Linked DNA regions of Homo sapiens: all the other regions are linked to region 3. The links come from fine-mapping of genetic effects on gene expression. A gene starts in region 3. Each other region holds a variant in brackets. All regions are shown on one strand. Distances are from middle to middle. Region 1 has its middle 51 kb from the start of TERB2. Region 2 has its middle 6.0 kb from the start of SLC28A2-AS1. Region 3 holds the start of SHF (Src homology 2 domain containing F).

What was found. PIP is the estimated chance that this variant, and not a neighbour inherited with it, causes the effect.
Region 1: its variant is fine-mapped to the expression of SHF in sigmoid colon (GTEx, PIP 0.98).
Region 2: its variant is fine-mapped to the expression of SHF in whole blood (TOPMed, PIP above 0.99).

The regions. Positions count from the first base shown.
Region 1 is chr15:44,903,348-44,907,694 of GRCh38, forward strand. No RefSeq gene overlaps it. Among named protein-coding and RNA genes, the nearest start is that of TERB2, 51 kb to the right of the region's middle. The variant C/T (reference allele first, on the strand shown) is at 1,794.
Region 2 is chr15:45,283,058-45,287,330 of GRCh38, forward strand. No RefSeq gene overlaps it. Among named protein-coding and RNA genes, the nearest start is that of SLC28A2-AS1, 6.0 kb to the left of the region's middle. The variant C/T (reference allele first, on the strand shown) is at 1,932.
Region 3 is chr15:45,186,220-45,190,219 of GRCh38, forward strand. It overlaps SHF (Src homology 2 domain containing F), which reads right to left and starts at 1,747. Exons shown (of 7, transcript NM_001394037.1): 1 at 1,235-1,747. The coding sequence starts at 1,732. It overlaps LOC124903481 (a long non-coding RNA gene), which reads left to right. Exons shown (of 2, transcript XR_007064608.1): 1 at 1-239; 2 at 1,896-2,599. RefSeq lists an enhancer at 175-727 and a silencer at 1,642-1,691.

The sequences.
Region 1 (4,347 bases), 280 kb before region 3:
AGTTCAACTTTATTAGAATCCACATATAAGTGAGATCATGTGGTATTTATATTTCTGTGCCTGGCTTATTTCACTTAGCATAATGACCTCCAGACTCATCCATGTTGTTGCTGGAAATGACAGGATTTCCCCCTTTCGGGGCCTAGTTGTTATCATAGTGATGCTATGAGTCCACCAGGGAAAACAAAGTTACCCTTCTTCTGAATCATCCTGATTTTTTCCAATATCCCTCTTTTCTGCCCTGCAGAAACCAAGGACTAGTGCTCTTAGAGAATTTGACCTATATGTTATTCTAGCACCTACTTCACTTTGCCTTACAGTCAGTTGTTTATATTTCCAACTCTCCAACCAGATTATATTTATAATGGAAGGGTCCCACTCCCTGTTATCTCACTTTACAGGAAAAGAAAAAAAAGCTGTGAGTTTAGCACTCTGTCATCAACAAATGTTTGTTGAATGAATGCGTAAATGAATGAATGAGACAACCCTAGCAGGGTTGATGAATGTGTATTATGGAAGCCTTCGTTTTATCTGGCACCTCCAGGTCCATACAACCTGCTTCCTAATAAACAGTGAAACAGGGCACTGTTGGGTCCCAGTCTGGAAACTGAAGGAAATATTTTCCTTTATCTTCTGGATCCTTACATGTATGAATTCAATTCATCAAATAGTACCTGAGTAACTCCCATATTCCAGGCACTGTGCTGGGTGCTGTGGGAGCTGCAAAGATTAGTAAGAAATAATCCTTGCCTTCAAGTACCTAACAATGTAGTAGGGGCCTTTGGCAGGTATACACAAGTAATTATAACTTTAGGTTGAGTAACCTAAGTGCTCTAAGTGGACTAGAGTCCTGTGGGGAGAGGGGGCAAGAAGAGGAGGTTGCCAAAGAAGTTTCATTCAGAGATATCCTTTGAGATGATGCCTGAAAGAAGGACAGGATTTGGACAGATGGGAATGGGGAGAGGGAAAGAAACAGCTTTTAAAAACCTAACAAATGGGCTGCGTGTGGTGGCTCGCACCTGTAATCCCAGCACTTTGGGAGGCTGAGGCGGGTGGATCACAAAGTCAAGAGACCGAGACGATCCTGGCCAACATGGTGAAACCCGTCTCTACTAAAAATACAAAAATTATCCAGGCATGATGGCGCACACCTATAGTCCCACCTACTCAGGAGCCTGAGGCAGGAGAATTGCTTGAACCCAGGAGGTGGAGGTTGTGGTGAGCCAAGATCGCACCATTGCACTTCAGCCTGGTGACAGAGCAAGACTCCATCTCAAAAAAAAAAAAAAAAAAAAAAAAATCTGACAAATGAGGAAGAAACACAATACAGAGTAGGTATGGTGAGGAGCCTAACTAAGACAAGGAAATGAACCCGATTTTAAAGATAAGAGCAAAGTGAAATAAATCACAACACTGTGACAAGGAAACAAACCTCTTTAAGAGGGGTGAGGGCCCCACAGTTGGCAGGCACCCTCGTTTAAGTCAGCAACACCATGAAGGAAAGCTCTTGAGATTGGGAATTCCAGGAAGAGATGAGATCTGTGCCACACCTTCATCTGTGTCACACCCTCATGATTGCAGAGGCAAGGAATGGAGGAATGAAGGGCTCTCTGATCAAGAAAGAGGGAATCTCCTAAAGACTGTGACACAATCAGGTTGAGCAAAGCCCCCGAGTGACAGAGAAAGGATGAGAAGAGATCAGATACGCTGGAAATAACTTTATGTAACACAGAAGACATGGGCAATAGTCTGGCTAGTGAGTACTACATGCTCTGGAGATTAGGGGAACCATA[C/T]GAACGGGAAAACAAATAGCAGGCTGGGAAATCACCCCAGGGTGGGGAGATGGAAGAAGAATGGAGACAGTGATAGTGAGAACTGGAGTGTAAATTCTAAGTGACAGCCTTTTCCAAGCCACTAAGGTCAGGATCCAAGGCCTGGAGTAGGGTAGGTGGTTCTGTACATATCACAAAAATTGCACCCACAACAGTGGGAAAAAAATTCCAAGACTGATATTGAGGCAGGTGTGTAAAACAAAAGCAGAGACAATCTGATTTAAGGAAAAGATTGATTTACTTTCAATTTTATTTTTAAATTTCAGATCCACCTAATGCCCTGAGCAGTTTTACTTCAGAACAAAGAGCAGGCCCCTTTACCTTTCAGAGCCTGCACACAAGGGAGCCTGAAGAACACACACATTCTGCACTCAGTGATACACCATAGCTGTAAAGGAAACTAATAAAGGCAAGCATGCATTGATCATGTGGCAAATGCTAGGCCCTGTGCAATGCACTTTTACAGGCATTTTCTCATTTAATCCTTCAATATTACTATGGCATTGTTACTATCTTCATTTCTCAGATGCGGAAACAAGTTACATAGCTCACTAAGATGACAAAATCTAGTAATTAGTGGGGCTGTAGGAAGATTTTTAATATTATAAAATCACTATTTTTCCCAGTTAAAGGACTGCTCAGATTTTCTCTTTTTCATGGCAGTTTTAGTAAGATATATTTCCTAGAAATTTAAATAGTTCATGTAAATGTTCAAATTTATTGACATTAATTTGGTCATAATTTCCTCTAATTTTTTTAAATGTCTCTAGAATCTGAGATGTATTCCTCTTTTCATTTTTGATATTATCTGTGCCTTCTTTCTTTTTCTTTGCCAGTCCTATCAGAAATTTATAAATTTCTTTTAGTCTTCAAAACTCAACTTCTTGATTTGTTGATCATTTCTACTGTAAGTTTGTTTCCTATTTTATTAATTTCTTCTATCTCTACTACAATTCCATATTATTTCCTAACTTCTATTTTCTTTGGGGTTTTTTGGTGATTTTTTTCTTTTTCAATTTCTTTCTTCCTTTTTTCTTTTTTTTTAGATGGTCTTGCTCTGTTGCCCAGGCTGGAGTGCAGTGGCACAAACATGGCTCCCTGCAGCCTCAACATCCCAGCTCAAAGCATTCCTCCCACTTCAACTTCCTGGGTAGCTGGGACTACAGGTACACGCCACCACACATAGCTACTTTAAAAAAAATTTTGTAGAAATGGGGTCTCCCTATGTTGCCCAGGCCTGTCTCAAACTCCTGGGATCAAGCAATCCTCCCGCCTCGGCTTCCCAAAATGCCAAGATTACAGGCGTGAACCACCACGTCCAGCCCCTATCTTCCATTGTTTTACTTTCAACATTTTAACATCCTTAAATTTTAAATGTCTTTTATAAATGGCATATAATTATTTTAAAACTCTAGCTGCCCAAAGTGGTGATTTAATTGAAGCATTTAGTCCACTTACCTTTAAGATAATTGTTGATATACTAGGGTAAATAATAAACATTTCTACCATGTATCTCCCGTAAAGAGAGAAAAATTTTCCTTGGGAAGAAATGAAGGATATTATATTGATGCCATCTACTGAAAAAATTAAAAAACTGAAAAACTACTCCAAGTAACATTGTTTCCGTTAAGCAAACTTTTAAAAAGCTTTTGTTCAAGGTTTCAACTATGTTATTGTATTGGATAAACACATTCTGCCTTCAGCTATTCATAGATTTCTATCTTTTCCAACCTGTTAGGGTAAAAATGGAGCTGTCATGAACTCTTTGTGTCTTAGGAGGTAAAAAGCTCCCCAACTCTATCTAGTTTGCCCACACTAGATAGAGTCTCCCTCTATTGCCCAGGCCGGAGTGCAGTGGTGCGATCTTGGCTCACTGCAACCTCTGCCTCCTGGGTTCAAGCGATTCTCCTGCCTCAGCCTCCCAAGTAGCTGGGACTACAGGCACACGCCACCATGCCCAGCTAATTTTTGTATTTTTTGCAGAGACGGGGTTTCACCATGTTGGCCAGGCTGCTGTCAAACTCCTGACCTCAAGTAATCCACCCACCTTGGCCTCCCAAAGTGCTGGGATTTCAGGTGTGAGCCACTGTGCCCAGCTTTGAGTGTTTTATTGAACTTAATTTTTTAAGTAAAGACTGGGTTCTTGCTATGTTGCCCAGGCTGATCTTGAACTCCTAGCCTCCAGAGATCCTCCTGCCTTGGCCTCTAAAGTGCTGAGACCACCATGCCTGGCCCCAATTTGAGTTTTCAAAGTACTAGTTTGATGATCATTTATCACTTACTTTGTGACAGGAACCCGAATATGCTAATAATAATGAAGCTACATAGCTTTTTTATTGAGCACTTACTAAGTATCAGGTACGGTCCTAGGCACTTTACATGTATTACCTTGCTTAATCCTCACAATTTCCCTATAATTTTGGCATTAAGATCCCCATTTACCAGGAAACTGAGGCACAGACAGCTTAAGTAACTGGTCCAAGATCACAAACTAGATAAGAGTTACAGTTGGAAT
Region 2 (4,273 bases), 97 kb after region 3:
GAGATATACCTAATGTAAATGATGAGTTAATGGGTTCAGCACACCAACATGGCACATGTAAGCATATGTAACAAACCTGCACATTGTGCACATGTACCCTAGAACTTAAAGTATAATTTTAAAAAATTTAAAAAAATTAGGTTCAGGGCTGGGTGCAGTGGCTCACACCTGTAATCCCAGCACTTTGGGAGGTCGAGGTGGGTGGATCACCTGAGGTCAGGAGTTTAAGAGCAACCTGGCCAACATGGCAAAACCCTGTCTCTACTAAAAATACAAAACTAGCTGAACATGATGGTGCACACCTGTAATCCCAGCTGTTGGGGAGGCTGAGGCAGGAGAATCACCTGAACCGGGAGACAGAGATTGCAGTGAGCCAAGATTGTGCCATTGCACCCCAGCCTGGGCTACAGGAGGGAAACTCTGACTCAAAAAAAAAAACAATAAATAAAAAGAAAAGAAAAGAAATTAGGTTCAGGATCCAGAATGGCAAAGCTGCTAAAGGTATTGAATGCATAGCTTCAACAGCTTTCCCATGTGGAGGTATTTTCCAGAAAAGAAAAATGTGAGGCGTTAAGACCTGAATAAGAAATATGTGAGTGGCAGAGTGACCAGTGAACCCAAGGCATCAGCATCACCTGCTAGACATGCAGAGTCTCAGGCCTCGCCCCAGACCCACTGAATCAGAATATGCATGTTAACAAGATTCCCTGGCCGGGCACCGTGGCTCACGCCTGTAATCTCAGCACTTTGGGAGGCAGAGGCAGGAGGATTGCTTGAGCCTACAAGTTCAGGGCCAGCCTGGGCAACATAGTGGACCCCGTCTGTACAAAAAAATTAAAAAAAAAAATAGCCAGGTGTGGTCCCAGCTGCTTGGGAGGCTGAGGCAGGAGGATCGCTTGAAGCCGGGAGGTTGGGGCTGCAGTGAGCCATGATCATGCCACTGCATTCCAGCCTGGGTGACAGAGCAAGACGCTATCTCAAAAATAAATAAATAAATAAATAAAATATGTGAGTGGATGAGCCTCAAAATCTGGAGCTCCTAATTGTCCCTAAATCTTCCTGGCCAGCAGAAGCAGTCCCTTTTCTTTCTTATTTATTTATTTATAATGCTGTCAGCAAAACCCTTTTCTCTTGACTAAGGAAAACAGCCTCCCCTTGCCCATCCAAAATAGGTCATTGCAGAATAACTTTCGTTCTTCCCAAGATAAGCCTCCATTCTCTGCCTTTTTTGCCTCCAGTCTGGTAATCTGTGCCAGAGCTCAGCACAGCCTGAGCAGGGAAGTACAGGTCCTGCTCCAGAAGGAGTTAGCCTCCATTCCAAAGGAACTGTAGGACCTGGAGAATATGTAAGAACTGAGGACTAAACTCTAATTTTTTTATCTGCCCAAATTCCTACCTAAGGGGTCTAGGGAGTCATGTCCTACAAACCATAAATTCTCATCAGATGGGTTTTGTTTGACCCTATATATCGTGACTTACTTTTCAATCACTCTGGCATAACATTGAGACAAGGAAGAAATATTTAACCCCAAAATATATTTCCTTGCTATACCTTGAAATTGCCCTACAAAGTCTCTTGTGGGAAAAATACATATCCTGTAGAGAATCCCCTTCCCCCTTTGTTTTCTTTCCTTTCTTTCCAGATCCAGGAGATAATCAACTAAGAGCCAGACACCCTTTTAGGTCTGATAAGAAACATTTTATAACCTGCTCTCTCTCTGAAGTCTGCTATCTGCACAATAAAACTTGGTCTCTCCATAATCCTCTTTCTTAACCTGAACATTCCTTTCCATTAATCCCAGGTCTTCAGATAAACTCAACCAATTGTCAACCAGAAAATGTTTAAATCTACCTATACCCTGAAGCCCCCGGTTTGAGTTGTCCCACCATTCTGAACCAAACCAATGTATTTTATTTTATTTTCTTTCTTT[C/T]TTTTTTTTTTTTTTTTGAGATGGAGTTTTGCTCTGTCACCCAGGCTGGAGTGCAGTGGCGTGATCACAGCTCACTGCAGCCTCAGCCTCCTGGGTTCAAGCGATTCTCCTGCCTCAGCCTCCCAAGTAGCTGGGATTACAGGTGCACGCCACCAAGCCTGGCTAATTTTTGTATATTTAGTAGAGCTGGGGTTTTGCCATGTTGGTCAGGCTGGTCTCAAACTCCTGACCTCAGGTGTTCTGCCCGCCTCAGCCTCCCATAGTGTTGGGATTACAGGCATGAGCCACCATGCCCAGCCCAATATATTTCTTAAATGTATTTGATTGATGTATCATGCCCCCCTAAAAATATATAAAACCAAGCTGTACCCCAACCACCTTGGGTACGTGTTCTTAGGACCTCCTGAGGGCTGTGTCACAGGCCATGATCACTCATATTTGGCTCAGAATAAACCTCTTAAAATATTTTACAGAGTTTGACTCTTTGTCAACAGAATCAGGGTAATGTAGGTGGGAGTAGATCTTGAAAATGTAAGACTGGGGAGAGAGAGAGAGTGAGTGCATAAAATAAGGTTTTATAAGAGAGAATTCATTACCTGAGGGCATACATTCATGAGTGGTTATCCAGTGTTTTGGCAAGAGCACTTGAGGTCACTATAAATAGTTTGTTGTGCTGTTTCCTTGAAGCTTGGACACACCAGAAATAATCTTGGCATTGTACTGGAGAAGGGATCAAAAGTCATAGGAAAATGAGAACGTTAGAATATATTTACTATGTATTAAGACCTGCTAACCCGCCACCTGTCTATATACTCCAAGAGCCCAGGGAACTTCCTTATACTAAGGAATAAGAAATACATTGGTGAAAGGAGCCCTGTCAAGGCCAAGAGTGGGGGATACTGCCATGGAACACGGATCTCTAGTATCAAAAGGGTTGATGGAATTCCAGAATACCAGAAGCCAAATAACACTCAACTAACAGAGCAAAGGTAAATACAATTACCATAATGGGCAGCAATGCCAGTACGACAATCAAGGTGCCTTGACCCATAAATATTTTTGGCAACAATTAGTAGATTTGAGTATTCCTAGGGTTGAGACAGATGGACAGCCATGTAGGATATTACTTAATTTATAAAATAAATGCATGAATTGGTAAGCAGAAGGCTGACATCAGCCATCACAATGGAACATTGGTTTCCCTCAGCTAGTTTCCAAGTCTAAGTCAGTTTAGAAACCCATAGCCCATTGATTGAAGGGGAGGCTGAGTCCACTTGAGAAGGAAACTCCAAAACTACCATAAGTATATACATCAGTATTTTTAGAATCCCTCTCTAAAAGGACAAGTGACATTTTTCAAAGACAACCATAAGTATATACATCAGTATTTTTAGAATCCCTCTCTAAAAGGACAAGTGACATTTTTCAAAGACAACTACACTGGGTAAAGAAGAATACCTAGATGTTCTGAGAGCTGGTATTGGGGACCTGAAATGTTATCATGCCCTGTAGTTAGATTGGTGGTTTCCTAAGTCCAGGTGATGAATAGACCCCCTGGCTCAAGATTATATCACAATGTATCCAGAGGTTTTGCGAACTGGCCTTAAGTTTTTGTCCCTGGTTTCTGAAAGTATAATTGAGACAGATACACTTAGAATCTGGGAAAACTGTCACTTTGGTTTTCTGACCTGTGAAATAAACTTCTTTATGGTAGGAAAGGCCAAATAGAAGCCCCCAAGCCACCTCCTGCCTCTGGTTAAGATACTAAATCAGAAGTATTACCATATCCCAAGAGGAATTGCAGAGATTAGCACCAACATCAAAGACTCAAAGTGGGCTCATGGCTGTAATCCTAGCACTTTGGGAGGCCAAGGTGGGAGGACTGCTTGATCCCAGGGGTTCAAGACCAACTTGGACAACATAAGGAGACCTCATCTCTACAAAAATTAAAAAATTAATCAGGAGTGATGGCACGCACCTGTGGTCCCAGCTACTTGGGAGGCTGAGGTGGAAGGATCACTTGAGCCCAGGAGGTTGAGGCTGCAGTAAGCCATGATTATGCCACTGAACCCCAGCCTGGACAACAGAATGAGACCCTGTCAAAAAAAAAAAAAGACGTAAAAGTGTCCAGAGTTCGTCTTCCAGTCACATTCCCATTCAGTTAGATAGACAGTGCAGCGGAAGTGTGCTGGGCACAGATTCCCATTCAATTCAATTATTTTCAAAAGCACAGATAAATAATGGAGGATGGTAACAGACTACCATAAACTTAACTGAGTCATTGCCTCAGTTGCAGTTCCTATAATATCTTTATTAGAGCAAATCAACACACCTTCTGGTAT
Region 3 (4,000 bases):
ATGGGCAGCCATGCCCCATGGCAAAAACTAGGGGAAAAATAATTTGCATTCCTGAGGCTTCTGCTCTGACCCTGACAGATCTCTCTCATCCAGGAAATCTGGCGGAACGGCGCTCTCTCAGCTAAAAAGCCTCAATCCTGGAGCCAACGGATTCGGAAAGCAACTTTGCACTCCAATCAAATAAAAATGTTCTTCTCTGCTGAGGAGAAGGGGGCAGGCCCCAGAACTGAGCTCTCGGGGTGAGTGAAGAAGGACAGCAGAGCCAAGGCAGCCCACAGAGTCATCATCACAGAATTTAGGGGCCTGGGATGGCTTTCAGCTCTCACTCTGCCAGGGAGGGATAAGGCCAACCCGAATCAGGGCAGGGCCCTGAGGCATGGTGGATTTCCTGTTCTCCTCCCTATCCTGGTGCCTGCAGACCCAGGAAAAGCTCCAGCCTCCCTCAGAATGGACCAGGGGGAGAGGGAGGCCAGGAGGAGAGGAGGAATGGGCTCAGCTGCTTAGCCCCATGTGGGCAACAGGTCCTGAGCACTGACTATCCTCATACCTGAGAGGACGAGGGAAGGAGGGAGGAGTGGGCCTGGACCCCACGAAGCCCCCTTGGCAAGAGCTGTAAGCTGCCTGTCTTCGCCTCCTGAGAACAACAGCCTATAGGGCAAAGGCCAGCTCGTGCTGTGTCCGCAAGGAGAAACCCGTCTTCACCTCCTTTCTGGGGCTTCAGCACCTGCAAGGATGCTTAGGCTGGAGAAACAGGAGGAGGAAGAGGAGGAGGAAGCAAAGAGGCAACAGGAGGGAAGAGCTTTGTGCTGGCTATGCCCAGGGGGAAGGGTCAGAGATCAAAGGGCACTGAGCCGCTGCTTCCAGAGGGGCAGAAAGGCCATCAACCAGTGGGGGTTGGGAGGTGCGCCTCAATTCCCGTTAGCAAAAGGCTCATGGATCAGGCTAGAGGGGGCTACGAAGTGGAGAGCCAGCCCGGGAGGGGGAGGGTCACCAGTTCTGGGGCCATTACAAAGGATAGGGCAGAGGGGCAGAGTTTGGGGCTTCCGTCTCAGATTAGTCGGTTGAGAATCTGAACAAAGGTGGGTGAAGGCTCGGAACCCCGGGGTCAGGGGCTCGCGTCTGCCAGAAGCTGAGACACCGAGGGGCCCGGGCCAGGCCACCTTTGTCCCTCTCGCAGCCTCCAGACCCCTGACCGCCTTCCCTCCTGGCCATCCCGGCCCGGCGCGGCACTCACCCTATCGCTGCTGGCGGGGGGTCCGGAGATCCGCTCATCAGCAGGCGGCGCCGGGGGCCCCGGGGTCTCGACCCGAATAAGGCGGTGTGGGGGAGAGCCGTGGCGCGGGGGCGGCGTGGGTCCGGGGGCGACAGGGGTGGCGAGGGCGGCGGAGCCGGACGACCCCCCGGAGTAGGGGTCTTCGAAGTCGCGCTCCCGCTGCAGCCTGTAGGCGGCCAGGATGTCCGGGGGCGGCGCGGGGGGCGCGGCCGGAGAGGGCGCAGGGGGGCGGTAGTCGGGCTCGGGGGGCGCCGGCTTGCTGCCCCCTCCGCCGCCGCCCCCCCCGCGGAAGCCCAGGTGCTCCCGGAGCCACTTGGCTACTCCGCCGCTGCCGCCCCCTCCTGGGCCGGCTCCCGCACCCCCGGCGCCCCGGCGGGACCCCCCCGGGCCGCCCCCAGCGCTCCCCTGCGTTCGCGGCCCCGGGCGGGAGCCAGCCGGAGGAGCTCCGCTCAGTAACATGGGGCCAGCCAGACTGAGCGAGGGGAGCGCAGCGGCGGGTGGGGGGCGGGGGCGGGGGTGGGGAGGGGGGCGGGGCTCCGCCGGGCGGGGAGGGGGCGGGGCGCTTCAGTAACAAGGGAGAGGCGGGGCTCCGCTCCCTAACAGGGTCTTCCTCCTCCCGTAGCTCGGAAGAGTGTACGCGGGCTTCCAGCCGGTATGCACAGGCAAGAAGTGAAGTGGGCAGCCCTGGGGCAGAGGATGCGACTACTGGACTGAGGTTGAATCCTTTACGTGTCGCCACGCGGTCCCCTGTGGGGAGCGCATCCATCCCCATCTGTTCTTTTCCCCAGCTCCCAGCTCGTGCGAGACGCAAAGAGGGGAGCCCCCAGACTCCTGACTCTAGGGAGCCTTACGCCTCTCCTCTTCCCTCTCCCAGGATCTCGCAACTGGGAAACTATAATCTAGGAGGAAAATCTAGGCGGGCAAGAAAAGGGGCTAGGTTCTGTAAGATGTGTCTGTAAGCCTCCTCCTCCCGTGCTACCTTGGGAGCCCCACAACCTCCTCCCATCCAACCGTACGCACTGCACATACCCGAACCTACGTTACTTCCCGATCCAGGCAAACACATCTCACATCACATACAAACAACTCCCTAGAGACGCCCACTTCTCCCGTGTCGTTTTCACACACGCCCTTCTCACACGCAAACAGCCCTCGCTCAAACATCCCCCACCCACGGGAGCACCTGCTCCAAACGGGCCCACATGGCCCTGACGATAGCATGCGCACGCACGCAGAAATCCCTTCCAGCCACATCCCGGGCTTCATTGTCAATCAGATTAGTAACAGAATGGAAACAGACAAGTCAATAAATCAAGTCTAGAAACAGTCCCAGTGTTGTCTATCACAAACTCCTTATCCTCTTGAGGCTCAGATGCTCAAGTGCTAGGCATTTTTGTCTTAGAAATAAAGCCAGTTCCGGCTGGGCGCGGTGGCTCACGCCTGTAATCCCAGCACTTTGGGAGGCCGAAACGGGAGGATCACGAGGTCAGGAGATCGAGACCATCCTGGCTAACACGGTGAAACCCCGTCTCTACCAAAAATACAAAAAAATTAGTCGGGTGTGGTGGCGGGCACCTGTAGTCCCAGCTACTCGGGAGGCTGAGGCAGGAGAATCGCTTGAACCCAGGAGGCAGAGGTTGCATTGAGCTGAGATTGCGCGACTGCACTCCAGCCAGGGCGACAGAGTGAGACTCCGTCTCAAAAAAAAAAAAAAAAGAAAAAGAAAAAAGAAAAGGAAAGAAATAAAGCCAGTTCCTCACCATAAATGTAGGCCTGAAGCCAACACCAACACATTTGCTCTTGGCTCTGCTGGGAAAGCAGCTGTCTCACCTCACTTTACCCCACCCCCTTTCCCCCACTGCCTCAGTGTCTCCGCACTCCTAGGTTCATGTCTGCCTTTTTTTTTTTTTTTTTTTTTTTGAGACGGAGTCTCACTCCGTCGCTGGAGTACAGTGGCACGATTTCAGCTTACAGCAACCTCCACCTCCCGGGTTCAAGCAATGCTCCCAGCTCAGCCTCCCTAGTAGCTGGGATTACAAGCGTGCGCCACCACACCTGGTTAATTTTTTGTATTTTTAGTAGAGATGGAGTTTCACCGTGTTGGCTAGGCTGGTCTCGAACTCCTGACCTCAAGTGATTCCCCACCTCGGCCTTCCAAAATGCTGGGATTACAGGTGTGAGCCAACGGCACCTGGCCATATCTGCCTTTTGAGGGCGCAAAAAGCCAAGAGGCCCCAAAGGAAAGGAGTTCAAAGCGGGGGGTGTAAAGAAGGATGTAATGGCAAAACTGTGAATCTCCTGGGATTCCCAGGGCCCCGAGTCTCAAAATATTTGTTGAGTTCCTGCTTTGTGCAAATTCTAGTTGGGCGAGGTGGCTCATGCTTGTAGTCCCAGGTACCTGGGAGGTTGAGGTGGGAGAATTGCTTGAGCCCAGAAGTTCAAGGCTGCAGCGAGCTATGATTGTGCCACTGGTCAGACAGTGCTGCTTGTATTTAGGACAGTGCTTCTGATCAAGCCAGTGCTGCTTGTATTTAGGACAGTGCTTCTCAAACTTTAATGTGGACACTAATCTCCTGGGGATCTTGGTAAGTTACAGATTCTGACTCTCTAGGTCTAGCTGGGGTGGGGTCCCAGGTGATACAGATACTGCTGGTCCCAGACCACATGTTGAGTAGCTGGACTGTAGGAGATACTGGAGAATCTGATGTTGAACTTGGTTTTATGAAG